Linked DNA regions of Homo sapiens: region 2 is linked to region 1. The links come from fine-mapping of genetic effects on gene expression. A gene starts in region 1. The other region holds a variant in brackets. All regions are shown on one strand. Distances are from middle to middle.

Region 1 (10,194 bases):
CTAGGTATCTGGATGTGTGCAGTTTTTAATCACTCTTCAGGTTCCTTGCAACTACAGAAGAGAAAGAAAGTGAAATAAACAGGTTGTGCCCAGCAAAACTGAGATGGAGCAAAAGCATGAGGTGAGGACTGTGGGGCGAGTTTCACCCACAGAATTACGCTCCTGCTCTGGAAGTATGTTGAGAACTCCACAGGCTTTTATAGATACCTGTCATCAGAATCCAAGTACCGGCATTCAGCAAATATTTGTTGAGAGCAAGGGCCTAGTCTATTAAATACTCTAGTCCCCGAATTATAGTGTAAGCAACACATGAAAAGCTTGTTTGAAAATGCAGATTTCCAAGCCTAGCCATTCAATACCTTGGGACTGGGGCCTAGGGATCTGCACTAATATCAGGCAGCTCATTTGATTTGGGACCGTTAGTTCTTGGACTCTTATTGTTGCTTTGTAAAAACTAACCTTGGTCTCTTCAAAAGTTAGCACCCAATCAAAGTAGAGACTTGACTGGAAAATACAAACAAAATATTCTTTTGCCACCTCTTATTTGTTGTTTTTGATGTTGTTTTGTTACACACCTGAATTCTTCACTGTGTATTTTTTGACCTATTTATGGAAGATTAGTAACTTAATCTGGAATTACAAACTATCAGAAGCAACACAGTATCATTTTCACTTTTCCCCTTTCTTCCTTTCTCCCTCTGTCTGTCTCTCTCTCTCTCTCTCTCTGTGTGTGTGTGTGTGTGTGTGTGTGTCTGTCTGCCAATGTCTCTGTCTCTTTCTTTGCCTTAATGATAGTCATGACTATCATTTGTTTTGCCCTGCTGTCTGAAAAATGCAAAGTAGGTGTACAGTTGCAACTATCAAAAGCAACAATATGTACATTCTGGATCTGACTTCTCCAGTAATTTGTCATTACTTACAGCAAAAGCCTAAGGGACCCTGCCTGTGTCTGCCTGAAAGAGGAAAAGAGGGACAGTTCAAGAAGGAGGTGATCTGCAAGTCATTCTTTCCCTTGAAAACTTCCTCTCAAGCCTGGTGTGGTGGCTTGCACCTATATAACTACTCAGGAGGCTGAGGCAGGAGGATCTCTTCAGCCCAGCAGTCTGACGTGCAGTGAGCTATGATTGTGCCACTGCATGCCAGCCTGGGCAACAGAATGAGATCTTACCTCTAAAAAAAAAATTTTAATATTAAGCATTTTTTTTTCGGAATGTCAAAGATCCACAACATTCATTAGCAGTGGCATTCAATTTTTTTGACCAAGACCATACTAAAAATATATTTCATGTCACAATCCAACATACACACATACATATCTGTGTTGTGTATGTGTTTATATGAGCACATATGGAAAATAGAAACAATTATCTTATGAAACATTACTTACCTTTACCATATATACTCTGCTATTTTCTATGCTTGGCCCTTTCTTTGCTTTTCTTAGCCTTCCCTTCTCCCTTCTCCCTCTCTCTCTCTCTCTCTCTGTGTGTGTGTTTGCGTGTGTGTGTCTGTCAATGTCTCTGTCTCTTTCTTTTCCTTAATGATAGTCATGACACTATAAATGGTTTTGCCCTGCTGATTGAAAAATGTGAAGTAGGTGTACAGTTCCAACAGTTTTGAGTAGGACAAAAGAGGAGAGGAGCTGGAATTGGAAAACAAGTTTGTTCACTATTTTTTTTCTTTCTGTCTCAGTCAGTAACTCTGTTAATTTATCCAGGTCTACCTTAGCTAAGATAGTATATACATCCTACTTTTACTGTCTTAGAGGCTGATATTCCAAAGTAGTAGAAATGCTCAGTGGAATATATTGATAAACAAATGAGTCTGTACTTCTTACCAGCTTGACCTCCTCACTGTCTTCTATGTGACACCCTCATTTCTGCCCAGATGTCTTTATCTCTTAACCTAGAATTCTAGCTACCTGCTAAATCATTCTCTTTGCCTACTCTTCTTACCTCCAGGGCCACCAGTAGAGGTTTGCACTGACTTTCCCAGATCTTGAAGGCTACTAAAGGTACAAGGGAGAACACTTCATTTCCTAGAGTAGTGCTCAGCCAGGTGCAATCTACATCAAAGGAAAGATAAGCAATGCTGTTGTTTTTCAACCGAAGCTGTTATTTTCATAACTTGTAAATGAACTAAAGATTCCAAGAACTCGAGGTCCTCACAATCAGCTTTCTTCATCCAACAAGCAAGCTTCAATTTCATCGTAGCATTTTTATTGTGTGCAGTAAAAACATTCACAATTTTGTTTGCTGTTGATGATCTGAGTGTTTGGTTTTGAAAAAAAATTAACAAAGAAGCCAATTTTGTGAGTTATTTTTCATCACAGAGGAGAAATATTCACCTTAGCACTACCTTTGTTGTGGCACCTTTCCATCTCCATGAAGAAAAATAGCCATCCAGTCCAGATTGCAAGTGCTACTCAGTATCCTTCTCACACATATCTTACTAAAAATGTTTTCACTGACTTTTTCTTTATTTAACTATCAAGTATTTGGCAAATTAATATCTTGAAAGACATCTTCATTATAAATATTATTTTAATGATAAAATTATTAACTTGTAAATTTTTATCTAGCTCTAAGCAATTGGTTTTTATCTTAATTCGTTTCAGTATACTATTGTCATTCACTGAATGCCCAAGAACAGGGAATCTATCAAAAATGATTAAGATCATGTCAAAAGGACACAAGCACTAATTTGAAAGGGTATGCATTGGCTAAAGATGTGGTAATAGGAGCATTAAAAAGGTAATAATAATGATAGCAATACACTGATGCACACCAAATATGTAAAAATCCATGAGTTCATAAAGATGTTCCAAAAAAGAAAGTAATCAACCACCTCTGGAGAGTACTAGATCAATTAATGTATTCTGAAAATTACTAAAGAAAAAGTGAAATATTAAACTTCATTGCTTTTTTAATACATATTTAATACATGATATTTTTAATACATATTTGCAGCCTCTGTGTTACCAAAGTGGATTTGGCCATATTTGTAATGTAAGGCTTCAACACATTTTCCTATGATGTGAGCTTTGCCTGCTAAGATGATTCTGAAACTAACTTTGCCCAATTTTGCTTTTTCTATAATTTCATATGAATGCAATCATTCAGTGTGGTCTTTTGTATTTGACTTCTTTCGTACAGCACTTTGTTTTTGATATTCATCCATGTAGGAAAATTTTTTATTGTTTTTTATTGCTGAATAGTATTCCACTGCATGTGCTCATCACAATTTGCTTACCCATTCACTAGCGCTTTTCCTGCATCTGCTGAAAGGATTGTTTTTCCCCCTTTATTCTATTAATCCTGCCAATTACATTGATTGATTCTCAGATATTAAAAAAGCAGCTTTGCATTCCCAAGATAAGCCCCACAGGTCATGATGTATTGTCCCTTTAAATGTTGTTGAGTTTCATTTACTAAAATTTTGTTCACGACTTTTGTGTCTATGTTTATGAGTGATATTGGTCTGTAACTCTCTTTTGAAGTCTTTCACTGGTTTTGGTATCAGAGTAAATCTGGTCTCATAAAATGAATTCAGAAATATTTTTGCAATGCTCATTTTATGCCTTGCAGAACTTTGAGAAATATTACGCATAAAGTGTAACATGACGGGTGTCATTCAAATATATGTCTCAAATATAAAATAATCAGTTTTTGCCTTGTTCTTTCTTTTCCTAATTTCCGTAACAAACATGTCCTATTCGTCTTCACATCTAGTTTGAAGTTAGCTGAATTAGTGAGTGATTTATAATCACAGATTTCAGAAAATTAGAGCTAAGTGATTTTAGGGACTGTTGTCACTATATATCTAGGGGGGGAAACTGAGGCCTTTAGAAGTTGCCACGCTCTTCCAGTACAGAGTACCTTCCCACGCTTTACAGATTCCCACCATGTAACATTCATTAAAAGCCTTTATGGGTAGGAAATGAATAAGGTACCTGCTGTGTATATATTTACATTATAAAGTTTACGTATTCATTCTTACTCTTTTTCCTTCCTATGAAGACACACACTGTTCTTATTCTTACAATCTCAAAGAGAGAGCAGCGAAACAATGAAACTTCAGGATTGTGTGGCCTGGAGGCTACTAGTTGAACTGGGCATGCTCAGTCGCCAGGCAGATTTTTTTCGGTGAAGTGGAAACTACAACAGCGCGTACCGCGCGCGGAGGTGGGCGTGCCCTCGTGGAATTTAGAACGTTGCCTCAGCCAATGGGGCCTCGCGGCCGGCTGGCGGGGCTCCTCATTGGAGCAGCAGGGAGGCGAGCAGAGGGCCCCCAGAGGGAGCCGCGGAGGTGCAGGTCGAAGAGGCCGGGCTACGTCGTGCCCTGCGCGTGAGCAGCTGCAGAGGCAGAGGCAGCATCCAGCGGCGGCGCCAGCAGTTCCAGTCCGTTGCTTTACTTTTTGCTTCACCGACATAGTCATTATGCCGAAGAGAAAGGTAAGTCTTACCAAAAAAAGATTTCAAAAGCCTTCAAATTCTGCTTACAGTAAATGCTGGCATTGCAATGGCTCGCGCAGAACGCGCGCGGTAGTAACCCGGGGATTGGGAATCTTTGCTCCTCCACGCTTGTTTTTAGATGCCTGTTGCAGACGTTCCTCTCTCTGTCCCCCCTACCCACTCCGTCCTCATCGATCTCTTAATGTTACTTTCTCTCCAGTGACGCGGTTTCCCTTCTTTTTGAACTCATTCTCGCTGGAATGTTTTCCACCCCCAACAACAAGAAGCAAAAGCGGCTTTCCATTCCGAAAGGGAGTTTCCTCTTTGCAAACTGCCAGGTTGCGAATTAGTGTGAAGGGAAAACAGCGAGAGGAGAAAAACAAGTACAAGCGTAAGGAGAGGGAAGAAAATAAATCAGGCAAATGTTGGGATTATTCCCATGCGGCTGTACTCGCGGGCTGGGTGCGCTGCGGTGGCTCCTAGGCTAAGGGAAAGAGAAAGCCATGTTTAAAATAGCGCTCACCCTCCTGCTCGCCTCCGCTGCAGACCCGTATGTACCAACTCCAGTGTCAATCAGGGCTGGGGCCGGCGAGGCGGGGCCTGGCGGCCTGGACCTACCCGCAGTTCGGGGCGGGAGCGGTGGAGTTGGCAGCGTGGAAGACGGGACGGCGCCGGGGCGTCCAATATGGCTCGTCCAAGGTCAGGGGGCCACCAGGTCCTCCCCAGCGACTGGAACCCACACTCGGTTGGGGAAGGCGGGGTCCGCGCGCTATCCGCCCCTCTGCGCGTCTAGCGAACTGGAGTCATTTTTGTCTTGTCTTCCGCCCCTTGCGGACTGTCCTCTTCTGCGCAGGCCCCGGACACCAACTACTACATTCAGGGACACAAATCTCCCTCGGGGTGGGGCTTCGACTTGTCCCGGGGAGGGAAGGGAAAGGTTTCCTCCTCCCTGAGAAATCAGTGAGGATTTCTCAGCTGGTTCCTAAGCAAGTGCTTTGCACCCTCCCACCGCCAGCCTCAGTGTTTCCAACAGTGTCAACGAGTGTGGGTATTAAATTTGAAGCAAAATTACACCTAATGTCTTGCTTTATCAAAGACCATGGACTAATTTGTGTGTGAGAGTGACTGCATTATTTTAAAATACTGAAGTTTTAAAAATTCAAAAGCTTTCCCCTTCTTATATGTTATTACTAAAAATTGGGTAGAAACTTGTCTCCTACCCCACTTTTTAAAAATAATTGAAAGTGTTTAAAAGTCTTAGAGTTTGTTGTGCACATACTGTGTCCCTCACGCTGTGCAGAATTTGACTTGCATTATCTCATTTAATCCTGAAAACAGCTTGAGCGGTGTTACCCCCATTCAGCTGGGACTTAAAGACATAAATTGTCCTGCATCTCACCAACCAATAACTACTAGTAAAGATTTAATCAGATGCTATAGATGCCAAAGTCTTATTCTCACCCATTTCGTACTCACTTACGAAAGGGTGGGTCAAGAGGAATTAAGGAAATCCAAAGGTACTCCCAGTTTAAGAAGACAGATGGCATATTAAGAGCACTAATACTTGAGATTTATTATTTAAACTTAATTTTATGAAGGTATTTTCTAGCCCTGTTTTACTAGAATTAGGATATTAAGTGATGTCACCATTTTCAGCATTTTGACTGAGGGTTAATGATGGATTGGAAATTCTAGTAGAGACAAAGGAACTAATCATCAAGATACGGGTTACAGAGTAAGTGAGCTGGAGGCCATCTTTTTTTCCTGGGAATTATAACCATTGTTTACATAAACAGTAGGTTAGGTGTGCACACTTTATGTATAATGGACCCTGACGATGGAACCCTTCCTTGCTGTTTATTCAAGGGCCAGAGCTGCTGAAACCATTATTCTTACTTCCCCTGTCTGCCTCTCTCAAGGAGACGGAAGGAAAAAAAAAAAAAACTAAAATAACAGTAAAATTACAGCTACAGTTTTATTTCCCTGGAAGGCAGGGAACCCCCATGCATAAGCTAGCCAATGGTCCTGAGACTAGGGGCAAAACTGTGTACAGGCACCTGTGTGTCATTCCTGAGGACATCAGAGTGTTCTCCGGTGATGGAAAACCTCTCCTTGATTAATAGGAAGGCTTTCCATTTATACCTGAAGCCTAACGACCTCAGTTGGTACCTGGGCAGGAACAACCTCAGATTAAACACGGCGATCATGGCCATCCATCTATCAGTCAAGTCTTAGAGCAGCCTCATGGAATCCTGAAGTTCACTGGAACTTATGTGAGGAACCACTGTCATTAGGTAAAGCCTGCTTAGATACAAAAAAGAACTGGAGACAATCCATGCATAGCTCTTCAAGATCTTCAAAGCTGGGGTAACTGCCAAAGCATTTACATACTACACAATATTTTTCTTGACTAAAGAATTGTCTGCTCTACAATATAATAAGCTTTTAAAATGTCCCCCTAGTACTTTTTTGCCTTCTTAGCCCCCTGTATCAACCTTTCCTAGAAATCAAGAAATGTTATTTAATGAACATCTGAGTAAGTTGTTCTGCAGAGCAAGAAGTGGTACAGATAAAGTCAATGAAAACATCTGGAATCCTAGCCCTGTTGTAATGCTGTAGGGACATACAGTTTTTGCCCTCTTGGAACTTGTGTTTAATTCAATGAGGTGATAAGACTAGCAGCACAAAACAGTTGAATAACATTAAAACTGTGTATGTGTTCCAGAATGTGTAGTTATAGATCCCACAAGCAGTAGGACAGATAAGGAAAGTTAACTTTAGGCTGGTCTTAAAAGTGTGGGTAGGACTCAAATATACAAAGAAGTCAGAGTCATTTTTTGTTACCAGGTATTCAAGTGTGTCTCCTGATTGTATCTTAACATGACCAGGCCTCAGTTTTGCAACTTCAGGGCTATAATATCATCTGAATTAATATTAAAATGTTCTGATGACATTTCTTTGTAAGTTTTATGTGTATCTTTGTGTGTGATAGTCATAACTACATTAAGCCAAGTGGTTTTTTATAAATGCCATAGTATTTTGTGAAGTAATACAGCACTTAGTGAAGAGTTCTTCAGTGCATATTATCTCTAAGTTTGTGAGATGTAAATAAAAGTGAGTTTCCTGTATTTTTTAGATAATGGATGGTGGGTGAGTGGAATTACAGGGGAAATGATAACATTCATGGACTCAGTGGTGAGACAATGAGTGATTGAGTTCTAGACTGTTCTGGCCAGACATCCACAAATGCCCGCAGTGGTCATGTTGTTATGTGATGATTTGATGTTCTACGAAGAGACATGAGCCAGCGAGGCCTAGAGTCACAGTCCTGGCATGATTAGCGACAGGAAACACATTTTTACCTCTTTCTTTTTATTAATATTTTCCAGTTCCTTATCACTAGAACTATTTTAAATGTCTAGTGTATCACATCAGAAATTCTCTAATGAGGCAATTTTCCATGAATGTGGCATGTAAGCAGTCATGTCTCTTGACACTTAAAGGTTTAAGGAAGGAAAGCCCATCTGCCTCTAGCTTTGAAACTCAAAATTAGGTTTTTATCTGTTTCCTTAAAATGGAAGGCCCAGTAGCAGTAGCATTGGGCTTATTAGCACAGGGGATGCTTAACTAACCATGATCAAGGTTTGTGATAGTTAATTTTGAAAAGAATATTACTTGTCATAACACCAAAAACAGAAACTGTAAATGAAAACACAGATAAATTTGGCTACATGAAAATGAATATTTCAATATGGGAAAAAAAACTGTTAACAAAATTTTTAAATTTATGAAAAACTGGGAAAAAATATTTGTACCACATATCACTGAAAAAGGTTTGCTGTTTTAAAAAGATAGCATCTCACATTTCCTTATGGAAAAGATGTATATCTTTATAGGAAAATAATGAAGACTCAAGTAGACAGAAATGTTTGGTTTTACTAGAAATCAAAGAAATGTACAATATTAAGAATAATGAGATGTAATTTTTAAAATAACCAATCTGGTTTAAAAAAAGATTAAAAACCTACTGGCTAGTGCTGAGGGATATAGACACTCAGCACTCTCAGTTATGAGAGTATAATTTCCTTTAAAACATTTATTGAGTATAATCTACTTACTATAAAGTCCATTCATCCATTCGAAGTATACAATTCAGTGATTTTTAGTAAAGTATAGAGTTGCGCAACCATTGTCATAATCCAGTTTTGTAACATTTCCATCATTCCACAAAGGTCCCTCATGGAGTTTATAGCCAATCCCCACTCCCAGCCTAGCCCTAGGCACTAATCTACTTTTGCTGTATCTAGATTTGCCTTTTCTGGAAATTTTATTTAAAAGAAATGATACAATATGTAGTCTTTTGTGACTGATTTTTTCACTCAGCATGATGTTTTTGAGATCAGTTTGTGTTGTAGCATATATCAGTACATCATTCTTTTTTATTGTCCAGTAGTGTTCCATTGTATGGATATACTCATTTTTGTTTATCCTTTCACAAGGTGATGGACATTTGGATTGTTCCAGGTTTGGATTATTATCAATAATGCTGCTGTGAATATTTGTAAATAAGTGATTGCATGGACATATATTTTCATTTCTCTTGGGAAGATTTCTAAGAGTAGAACTGGCAGGTGGTATGAAAGTCTATGTTTATCATTTTTTTTTTTGGAGGCGGAGTCTGGCTCAGTCGCCCAGGCTGGAGGGCAGTAGCGCGATCTCAGCTCACTGCAAGCTCCGCCTCCCGGGTTCACACCATTCTCCTGCCTCAGTCTCCCGAGTAGCTGGGACTACAGGCGCCCGCCACTACGCCCGGCTAATTTTTTTGTATTTTTAGTATACACGGGGTTTCACCGTGTTAGCCAGGATGGTCTTGATCTCCTGACCTCGTGATCCGCCCGTCTCGGCCTCCCAAAGTGCTGGGATTACAGGTGTGAGCCACGGCGCCCGGCCGTCTATGTTTAACGTTTTAAGGAACCTCCAAACTGTTTTCCAAAGTGCATGCGTTCTAATTTCAACATACTTGTTCATACTTGGTATTGTTGATTTTTTGCTTATAGAGATTCTTATGAATTTTAATTTATATTTCTGTAATAACTACTGACAATAAGCATCTTTTCACGTGTTTACTAGCATAATGTGTATCATATGTGAAATGTCTATTCAGATATTTTGCCCATTTTTAATTGGGTTGTCTTATTATTGAAAGAGTTCTTTATAAGTCTGAGATACAAGTCCCTTATCAGATATATGATTCGTAGATATATTCTCCCAGTTTGTGACTTAAAAATATATTTTTTTCTTAATGGTGTCTTTTGAAGAACAAAAGTTTTTAATTTTGATGAAATCCATTTAGTGTTAATATCTAATAAATATTTGCCTAATTCAAGGTTATGGATGTTTTCTCATAGAGGTTTTATACTTTTAACTCTTATATTTAGGTATGTTATCCATTTTGAATTAATTTTGTGTGTGGTATGAGGTAAGGGTTTAAATTCATTTTATTGCTTGTAGAAATCCAATTACCTCAGCACCATTTGTTGAAAAGACCATCCTTTCTCTACTGAATTGCCTACGCACCTTTGTTGAAGCTCCTTCATAAATGTAAAACTTTATTTCTGGACACTCAATTATGTTTTATGGTCTGTATGTCGTTCTTATACCAGTGCTACACTATCTTGGCTAGGTGAGCAGTGGCTCACACCTGTAATCCCCACAGTTTGAGAGGCTGAGGCAGGAGGAT
Region 2 (10,194 bases), 42 kb before region 1:
CTAAGTCACATTAACTCCAACCTGTACTTGTGCCACTGAAAATTTCATCTTTTAAAAATTTTATTTTATTAGATAGAGTCTATGGCTCTAGCTAGTCAAGATCTAGCAAGTCAAGACCTCATCATATCTAATTCTTTTATCTAGTGTATTTTCTATTCCTCTCAGCTTCACTTCATCCAAACTTTTAAAGAGCCTGTCTTTTACCTATGGCATTGATTGAAATGGCAGATACAATAAAGGGTCTTGCTTCTCTCCTATAGGGTCCTCCCTGCAGGATGACACTAGGCATTTAGATATGCTAATTCAACTAGCTCCAATTTGTCTAATTGCCCTTTAATCCAGACCATATTTATTCATTTTTTTCATAAGTAATTTATGGGAAATGAGTCCTCTTCCTGACAGTTCCTTCTTGGTCTCCTTTGTAATTTACTCCTCTTCTTCTCATTGCTGGAAAATTTTGGTCTCTTGATGGTTCCACTTGGATCCATGCTTTTTAATCCATATGCTTTTCTACTTATTTTTAACCACTACTTGTACCCTGATGTACAAGTACTTGGCCCCATTTCCCCCCTAAGTTTCAGGACCATATATAACTTCTTTCTGGAAATCTCCAAATAGATTACCTACAGGTTCCTCTCTTCAACATGTTCAGAACCGAATTCTTCATCTTTACCATGCCCAAACCTGGTTCTCCTTCTGCCTTTCCCATATCAGCAATTGATGACATCACTTGTCTAGGCCAGAAATCTATGGGTTACTCTAGATTTATCATATTCTTGCATCACTAAGTCTAATCAGTTGCTAATTTTTGCCTATCTTACATCCTATATTTCTCGAATGTGCTCCTCCTTTCAACCCATACTAACACTGCCCCAGTCCAGGCACTAACCTCTTTTTGATTGGTTTCTATTAGTAACCCCTGAGCCAGGCTCCCTGTTTCTTCTTTTGTCTCACATCATTGCCAAATGGGCTCATTTAAGTTGCAAATCTGACAGTTTTACTCCAGCAATTAAAATACTTCAGTATATTGAAATACTTTGCTTCTATAATAAAGTTCAAATTCATCAGCATGGCAAAAACATTCCTTCTTTGAACCCGGCCTCAACCTGCAGCTCCTGCCATTTCCCACTTTGCACTTTATAATAATGTCACACTGAATTTTATTCTCCCACTAAACATGTTATCTTGTGCCATGAGCCACTGCTGAAGTGGATCTCTCTGCTTGGAATCTTGCTTCATCTCAGACCTAATTCTTGCTTGTTCTTTAGTCTTTAGTACTCATCTTGCACTTTGTCTTCTTCATGTCTAACCCCATCAAGTCAGTTTGGCCAGAAACTCTCTGGCCGTCTATCCTTGATGTTTCCTCTTAGTAATTTTCTACCCACTGATCCCACTGTATTCCTTTGCTATAAATCCCAGATTTAGTAAACGTCCCCCTCAGAGCTCTTGCACCATTCTGGACACACTCCTCTCATAGCAAGTACTACTTTATTTGGAATTATCCCCTTATGTATGTGGCTCCTGTTCCACACAATTTTTCATCTTTATATTCCGAATGCTTGTTATATAGTAAATACTCAAGAAATGGTGGTTGAATTTTTAGTGAAGACCAGATGCTCAGTGTGAATAACATTTCCCTGTTCTGTCTGGAAAGTCTGACCAAAAAGAAATTATTGTTTCATTGGACGTAACTGTTCCTAGCAAACTCAAGTCCTAGTGCCCAGTGCTTTTTCTACCTAGAATCAAAGTTTTCTATAAAGCAATACATAAGAAGTAAATATTTAGAATTTTGTAGGCCATATGATAATCTTCTCAACTCTGCTATTGTGGCATGAAAGCAGACATAGACAATGCATAAATAAATTGGCATGGCTTCCTTGGAATGTAACTTTATTAACAAGAATAAGCAATGGGTTGCATTTGGCCTGTGGGCCATAGTTTGCCCAATCCTAATCTAGAAGCTTCCAAACAAACTTTTAAAAAATCCACTATTTCTCTCCCACAGGAGGTCTACATGCTACTACCATATCTCTCATAATCCCTGCTATACTCCAGCAATTTTTGCAAGTGCAGTCAGTACTCTCTCTCTGGCTGTGGAGAGTATCCATGGGCTCGACATCTGAGGATTCAACCAACCTTGCATTAAAAAATACCTGGTAAAAATGGATGGTTGTGTTTACTGAACATGCACAGACATTTTTTCTTGTCATTATTTCCTAAATAATAGAGTGTAACAATTATTTGCATAGCATTTATGTTGTATTAGATATTACAAGTAATCAGGAGATGATTTAAAGTATATGAGAATATGTGCATAGGTTATATACAAATACTACACCATTTTATATAAGGGACTTGAGCATCCAAGGATTTTGGTATCCTCTGGGAGTTCTGAAACCAATACACTGTGCATACCAAGGGACGACTGCACTCAACACCAACATCAATGGATGGCAGAAATTTACCATCAGTACCATTAAGAGTGTGAGATGAAAACATGCTCATGTGTTGTTGGGGAAAACAGAGATTGACCTCATCAAGAGGTTAGAGGATTCACTGAGCATGAAGTGATATGTGTGATCATCATCATGCCAAACCCAGGCCAGTACAAGATCCCAGATTGGTTCTTAAACAGACAGAAGGACGTGAAGGATGGAAATTACAGCTGAGTCCTGGCCAAAGGTCTGGACAACAAGCTCTGTGAAGATCTGCAGCAAATAAAGAAGATTCTTCCCCACCAGAGACCATGCCACTTTTTCTTTCTTTCTTTTCTTCTTTCTTTTTTTTCTTCTTTCTCTATCTCTCTCTCTCCCTTTTTCTCTTTCTCTCTTTCTCTCCTTCTCTTTCTTTCTTTCTTCCTTTCCTTCCTTCCTTCCTTCTTTCTTTCTTTCCTTCCTTCCTACCTTTCTTTCTTTCTTTCTTTCTTCTTTTCTTTCTTTCTTTCTTTCTTTCTTTCTTTCTTTCTTTCTTTCTTTCTTTCTTTCTTTCTTTCCTTCTTCAAGACGTAGGATCTCACTATTGTCCAGGCTGTATTGCAGTGGTGGGATCATAGCTTGCTACAGGCTACAACTCCTAGGACTCAAACAAACCTCCCTCCTCATCCTCCTGAGTAGCTGGGACTACAAGTGTGTGTCATTATGCCTGGCTAATTTTTGTATTTTTTTGTAGAAACAGGGTTTTACCATGTTGCCTAGACAGGTCTTGAACTCCTGGGTTCAAGCGATCCTCCCACCTTGGCCCCCCAAAGTGCTGGGATTACAGGCATGAATGACTGCATCCAGCCAAGACATGATACTTCAGCTTTCATGTCCAAGACTAAGCATACTGAGGCCACTGGCCTCTATGGCCACATCATGTTTGTGTCCCAGAAGAAATAAATCTATAAGCCTTGTCTATCAATAAATAGTTTATATACCTTTAAATATCCAACATCTAGTCACTGATGTTTATTATGCAAAATCTCCCACTTCTTCAAAATGGGAACAGTATTTAACCATGCCCAGTTTCCTGCCACTTCTACCACCCTTTACAGTTCTACATTCTTTCCAGATTAGATCAGCAATGCAATTTGAACATCTTCCACAGAACACTGGGATGCAAGTTATCAGAGTTGGGAAACTATTTAGAATATAATTATGTTCTCCCACTTTGGGCTTCTCTTTCTCTTGCTAAGGAGTCTCTCCTTCCCTCCTACTCCTCTCCCTACTCTCCTCTGCAAAAAGACACAAGTAAAACTGAGGTTGAGGAGCTTGGTTTTTTCTAAGTAATCTTTCAGTAATAGATCACTGCTGACTAAACTACACCCAGTAGGCTGCTGCATCTTTGTTTCTCTTTGTTAAATACACTTTAAAAGTTTTATTTATTGTTCCTCGAATTTTTGCAAACCTGAACATATTTCTATCTCTAAGTTTATGCCACCCCTATTTACTTGCTTTTGGTCCTGTTTCCTTTCTTCATATAACACTCTTTATCCTGTAAGAGGACAGTTTCCTTCGCTGCAGTGGGACCACAGACTATAGAGAATTAGGACCTGGAAACAGAATGTGCAGTTATAGGGGAAAGTATCCAGCTGTGGCTGATGAGGAAGCAAGCCAGCTCATCAGACTTCACTATCTATTAGAATGTGAAGCTTCATGAAGGCAAGGGGTTTTTGTTGTCATTGTTGTTGGTTTTGTCTATTTTATTCACTGTTATATTTCCAGGTCCCAGAACAATGCCTGGCATGCAATAAATATTTGTTGAATGAATGAAAAATGGTTATCAATAGGCAGGGCAACATCCACGTGAAAGGTAAGCCAAAAAAGAGTATTCACCACTACATGACCA[A/C]GTAGGCAGTGCCCAATTATGGGGGATCCAGGACAGGCTACAAGCAGACAGCACTAGAAAAGTCTGCCAGCAGTTAGCAAGGCTTCAGCACTGCTGACATGTTAGGAAAAAAAAGAAAGACTGAGGTTAAGAAGGGTTCAGGCCCAGAGGCCATGGCCAAACCCAATTTTTAGAAGTAGGCCTTATTCCTGAGGCTAGCAGCAAGGCTGTCTTGATGCTGATTTCCAAGTACGCAAAAGCCCCCTAAATTCCTCCTGTCTAACCTGTCTTCTGATTCTAACCTAAAGATTTGAAATGCCATTTCCCAAAAATCTATCAGTCATAGTTTTTCTTTAGAATCAAAAGACGAACTAAAGGCTTTTTGAGAAATTTCTCTGTAATCCTTCCTTTGTGTCCAAGCAGAGCCCCCACACAGTAAAGCACAAAACTGGATTCAAAGATTTAGCTAGCAGCCATGGTAACTAGGGTCCCTGTAGAGTGACCCATGGGTAGTGATGTTTCAGAGCCCTGGGGAGCAGACCAAGTAGGACCTGATTATTTTTTAGAGCGAAACTCTAATTGGCCTATATTTCCTAAGTTTTGCATTTGCTAAGTAAATTTTTAGAGGGTGAGGGTATGTAGAATATAAATATTAAAAACAAAGAATAAAAGAGTTTTTACAGGCAAAGTAACTAGTCAGGTGTCACATTTTCTTGCAATTGACAAACACCACTTCTTGCTTGGAAGGCTGCATCTTTAGTTCCTAACTCAATGCCTGGTAGGAGACAATAAAATGTATTGAATGGGTGAATAAATGAATGAAATAGCTAGTCAATTAAGTTCATTTCACCATGTTTTGTCTATTCCAATTTTTTGTGTCAGAATTGATGATTTGAATGTAACTCAAAGTCTTGAGAGGTGCCTCATTGCTTATTTGACTCAAGGGATCAATCAGTGATAGGGTCCCCTGCTTAAGGAACAACAGAATGCTGCTAAGAGGTCAGGTACAAATATGATGTTCCATTGACTTACAAAGTCATTTTTCTCTACTATATTTTTTAAAGGCCTTGAGTAAAAATCCTTGAAAGAGCTCTTTAAAAAGACTGTGTCATGTACCAATCATATGGCAGTTGAGGTACTTTCAGTGTAGAAAATAGTGAAAATAAACAAAGATTTAAAAATCTACTACAAATTACATAATACTTTTCATCTATAACTTTTAAATCAAAACACAAAAACATTTGTAAAAAAGTAATACACATATGTAAGAGACATACTTATGTTATGATTAAGATCGTAGACTTTGAGATTAAATGACCTGGATTTGAAGACCAGTTTATCCATTTCCTGGTCTCATGATCTTCAGCAATTTGCTTAACCTCTCTGAGACTGAGTTGCCTCACCTGTAAAATGGGGGTCATAATTACACCTACCTCATAGCATTTTTATGAGGATTAAATGAGATAATGTGTGCAAAGGGCTTAGTACAGTACAGAGTATAAGTACAGTAACTATTAACATTTATTCAGCTTATTAACATACATACTTTATGTAAATATTAATTCACTTGTTCTTGCAGTAATTTGGTGACTTCTCAGGCATCTGAAACACACAGATTGAAAAACACTGCTGGATTCAGTAGGAACTGGGACAAAGGGTATCTTCAGAAAGAATAATGGAGACCTGTGTTGTTGCTGAAGGAGATGGAGCTTGGGACTTGGAAGACTGGCAGAGCTGCTTCTCCTTAGGAGCTCTGGCTGCTACTGGAGCAGCCCCAGGAAGGCTCTGTCACTAGGAACAAGAGCTACCACTAACTGAGTTAGTCCCTGGGAGCTGGACACTGCTGCTGACAAGTACTGCCAAGATGGTCCGTGGTGGTCTGCCTCTGGGACCCTGCTGACTACACACAACAATTGAGGCTTACAAAAGAGGAACTAAGAAAATCCAAAGATTTGGAAGTGTCTGACCCTTTCTTCCCTTTATGGCTTCTCACTTGCACAGAAGAATTTCAGCCCAACTCTCCATGCAACATCCAATAGGGGACAAAATACTATGCTCTATCATTACACCCTCATTGAGGAGGGTCAATAATCATTTCTCACCAAGAAAGTAGGAGGTCAGAAAGTGGATGAGGAATCAACCTAGTTTAGAGGATTGATCTAGAATCTTGTCCTCAGGCTTCTAGGGAATTATCTGAGTCTTTTATCTAAGACAAATGCAACAGTTTTCTTTCCAAATGCTCAGAAAAATAGTGATGATGATGATGATGATGATGTTCATTTGTATACATTTACATGCAACCACAGCATTGTTTTTATTATAATACCTTAGCAATAACTAATGAGAACATGTTAGGTGATGTTAAATAAAATAATTTTTTCCCAAAGACTGAGAACAGAGTTTCTTGGTTCGAATCCCAGGTCTACCACCAAGTAGCTTTTCTCGAGGCTCAATTTTGTCATCTAAAAATGAAGTGGTAGAAGCAGAGGTTCTCGAGGTCACTTTCAGCTCTTCTAGCATTATCTAACTAGACCACCCTTCAATAAGGTGATGGATAAGAAAGTCAAGGTTTGCCCTCCCTGTTACTCCTTTTATGCCTTTGAAATCTTTCCTTATTTCACCTGGTTGTGTTTCTTCCTTGACAACTTTCAACTAACAGTACCCAACACCAAGCCTTCTTTCTCTCTCAATTCTGGCAATTTACTAAGGTTTTTAAATTCTGGCACAAAATTCCATTCCCAAAGTATTACAGAGGCCATATTCTCAGATAGGTTGCAATCCATCAGAGAATTGAGCTTCACTTAGCCCAATTACTTTCTAGACTAAAACTAGATATTACACTTTTGCAGTTCTGTCCTTGTAATAATCGCCAGTTTTCCTACAAAACTATTAGCCCATATGCAACCATTTCCTCCTTCTGATGGAGAAAGTTTGTCTTATTTCCAAAAAATGACCATTTGCACAGCAATTATACATTTTTTCCAGTTCATTTTTATCTGACTTTCTTTATTTAAAAAAATTCCTTAAAACTTCTACTTTGGAATTTTTTGCAGACATTTCAGTCCTTTCATTTCTTTCTTTCTAGATTCAATACCAATGTCTAGAAAAATGGGAATGGCAAGATATTGGTTGTTCCCTGTCTCACCCCAAAGTAGCCATGCACATCAAAATCATACAACAAAGCTAACCTTAGGAGGGATATACAAGTTTCCCTTAAAAAATAAAAAGAATTGTCAATTAGAAGTGAATTAAATATGTTTATAATGGAGCCAGAAGTTATGGTTAAGACAAATGGATTGAAGGTAAAGTCAAAATTTTTTAAGTATAAGGAATATTTACATTAATCATTATACCTTTATGCCTGAAGAGCTATTTTATAGGCTCTTTAAGCATAAAGAGATTGGATTTGAATTCAATGACCTTCCAAATTGAGGGTTTTTTAATGCTACTCCAGAATCATTTAAAAGTGGTGTTAGCTTTCTGTTCATGTTTGGTGAACTTTTTAAATCCAATAGCTTGATTTTACAGTGTAACGTAGAAAAGGCTTTCTGGTTTAAGAGTCTAAGCCTCTAGGAAATAAGATAGTATTTAAATGAACTTTTAAACCAAATAAAAAGTAGGCATTTAGGCTATGTGATTTAATCTTAATATTATATGTCAACATGAACATACAGCTTGTGATATTTAAAGTAAATATTGTTTTGTTCACATGTTGCTTGAGAAATTGAAATGAGTTGAGGTTTAGCCCCAGATGTGATTTTGTATAAGGTACATTGTTCAGCAACACAGAGACCTGATTAAACTGCCTGGAGCTGTCCACATGTGGGCTAAGAGGACAAGTTCTTGAGAGTTTCTTATTTCAAAAACAATGCTATAAAAAATCAGATTCTCAGAGATGTACCCTTAAAATGATAGATTGCTTTAAAAAGGTTCTTCAATTAATCTATACCATTTTGGGGTCCTGTTTATACAAGTTAATACATCTCCTAGACATTAAAATAGTAGACTGACCTCACTAATATGTAAATCATATAAATTTTAAAATACAAAAAACTACATAAACATTAAATTAAAGAAAAGCATCAAGAGTCCATATTCCCATCACTTCCTCCAAGAACCTGGTGTTTGTCAGGCTGCTATAAAAAAGCATCATAGAATAGATGGCTTATAAATAACAGAAACTTATTTCTCGCAGTTCTGGAGGCTGGAGGTCTGAGATCAGGATGCCAGCATGGTCCGGCTTTGGTGCAGATCCTCTTCCAAGTTGCAGACTGCCAAGTTTCTTGTTTTATCCTCACATACTGAAGAGCAGAGAGGGGAGGCAAGCTCTTTCAGGACCCTGATAAGGGCAGTAATCTCATTCATAGGGTCCCTACCCTTATAACCTCATCTAATCCTAATTACCTCCCAAAGGCCCCAACTCCTAATACCATCATATTTGGGAAGCAGGGTGTTAACATATGAATTTTGGGGGAACACAAACATTCAGTGCATAATAAAGCTCAAGTGATCACCCAAAGCCCTCATGGAATTGATAACACTCAATTTTTCTGAAATTCATAAATAGCAGTTTATATGAAATGGAAATATGAGTGGCAGGTGAATGATTTAAATTAGTTGCTCAGAGTACATTTTTCCAGTTGGAAGAAAATCATCATAGGATTGGATATAGGTTTTAGGGAGATGCGATGTGATCTTTTAAGTTGATAACCAAAGAAAACAAAAAAGAATAGATGTTGAAGTTTGAAGATCCCCTAAGAATTGCAGAAGGGGGATCAGCTAAGTGATGAGCCAGGAGCGCCGACACAGGAAGCTCTGATGCAGGTGATGCTCCTGTAATGCAACTTGCAAGAGAAGGTGGGAGTGACCCTAAAAGAAGTATTCCGATAGGTCACAGATAGCCAATGGCCCAAGACTTTTCAAAACCTGGAAGACTCATAAGCATAAGGTAAAGATAACATAAGATAAATGTTAAGTCTTCCTGAGGCTATAAAATCAAAACAAAGTGGTAACAGTTGAGGTTAGTAAGCAATGCTACAACTTACACCTCACTTTTATCATTCCTTTGAATCTTAAACTAAAAAATGATAACTTCTTTAAATGGTTTTGTGGGTATTAAATGAAATAATGTATGTAAAAGACCAGGACCTGATAACTACTCAAGTGTCAGTTCACTTCATACTCTCTTTCCTGGCTTCTCAGGGCTTGAAAGTAGATCTTATTTAAATGACGAAAAAGAGTTTAGAGTTGAACTAGAGCCTACTAGACTAGCTGCTTGAAGCTTGTGTCAAAGTGTGCTATTCAAGTGGAAAAGTTGCTGGATTTTCCTTTACAATACCAAGAATGTATTTACATTTGCTCTCTCTCCTTCCTTAATTTTCATGGCTCTAAGCTGGCTAATGAATGTCACCAGTGATCTCCTCCTTTCCAAATTCAACATATACTTTGGAGTGCTGTGCAGCATTGGACACTTCTTGGTGCTCACTCTTGCCTCCATTTCTGTTGCTTTCCTGGTTTACTTCTACCTCCTTCCATCTTCCTCTTCTTGTTTTCTCCATTAAATGCCAATACTCCCCAGAGCTCTTCAGTCATTTTAATTGTACCCTCATGACTCTCTCCAAACTCCTTAACTTCAACTACAACCTATAGATACTTTTTTTTTTTTTTTTGAGATGGAGTCTCACTCTGTCACCCAGGCTGGAGTGCAGTGGTGTGATCTTGGCTTGTGACAACCTCTGCCTCCAGGGTTCAAGCGATTCTCCTGCCTCAGCCTCCCAAGTAGCTGGGACTACAGGCATGCACCACCACACCCAGCTAATTTTTCTGTATTTTTGGTAGAGATGGGGTTTCACCAGCTGGTCAGGCTGATCTTGAACTCCTGACCTCAAA

What was found.
Region 2: its variant is fine-mapped to the expression of HMGN3 in whole blood (INTERVAL, PIP above 0.99).

What each region holds. Positions count from the first base shown.
Region 1 is chr6:79,228,806-79,238,999 of GRCh38, reverse strand. It overlaps HMGN3 (high mobility group nucleosomal binding domain 3), which reads left to right and starts at 4,318. Exons shown (of 7, transcript NM_001201363.2): 1 at 4,318-4,454. The coding sequence starts at 4,440. HMGN3-AS1 (HMGN3 antisense RNA 1) reads right to left here and starts at 5,326. Exons shown (of 2, transcript NR_040671.1): 1 at 5,073-5,326; 2 at 2,200-4,938. RefSeq lists enhancers at 4,200-4,989, 4,990-5,780, 8,798-9,298 and a silencer at 4,993-5,042.
Region 2 is chr6:79,270,663-79,280,856 of GRCh38, reverse strand. No RefSeq gene overlaps it. Among named protein-coding and RNA genes, the nearest start is that of LCAL1, 38 kb to the left of the region's middle. The variant A/C (reference allele first, on the strand shown) is at 4,327.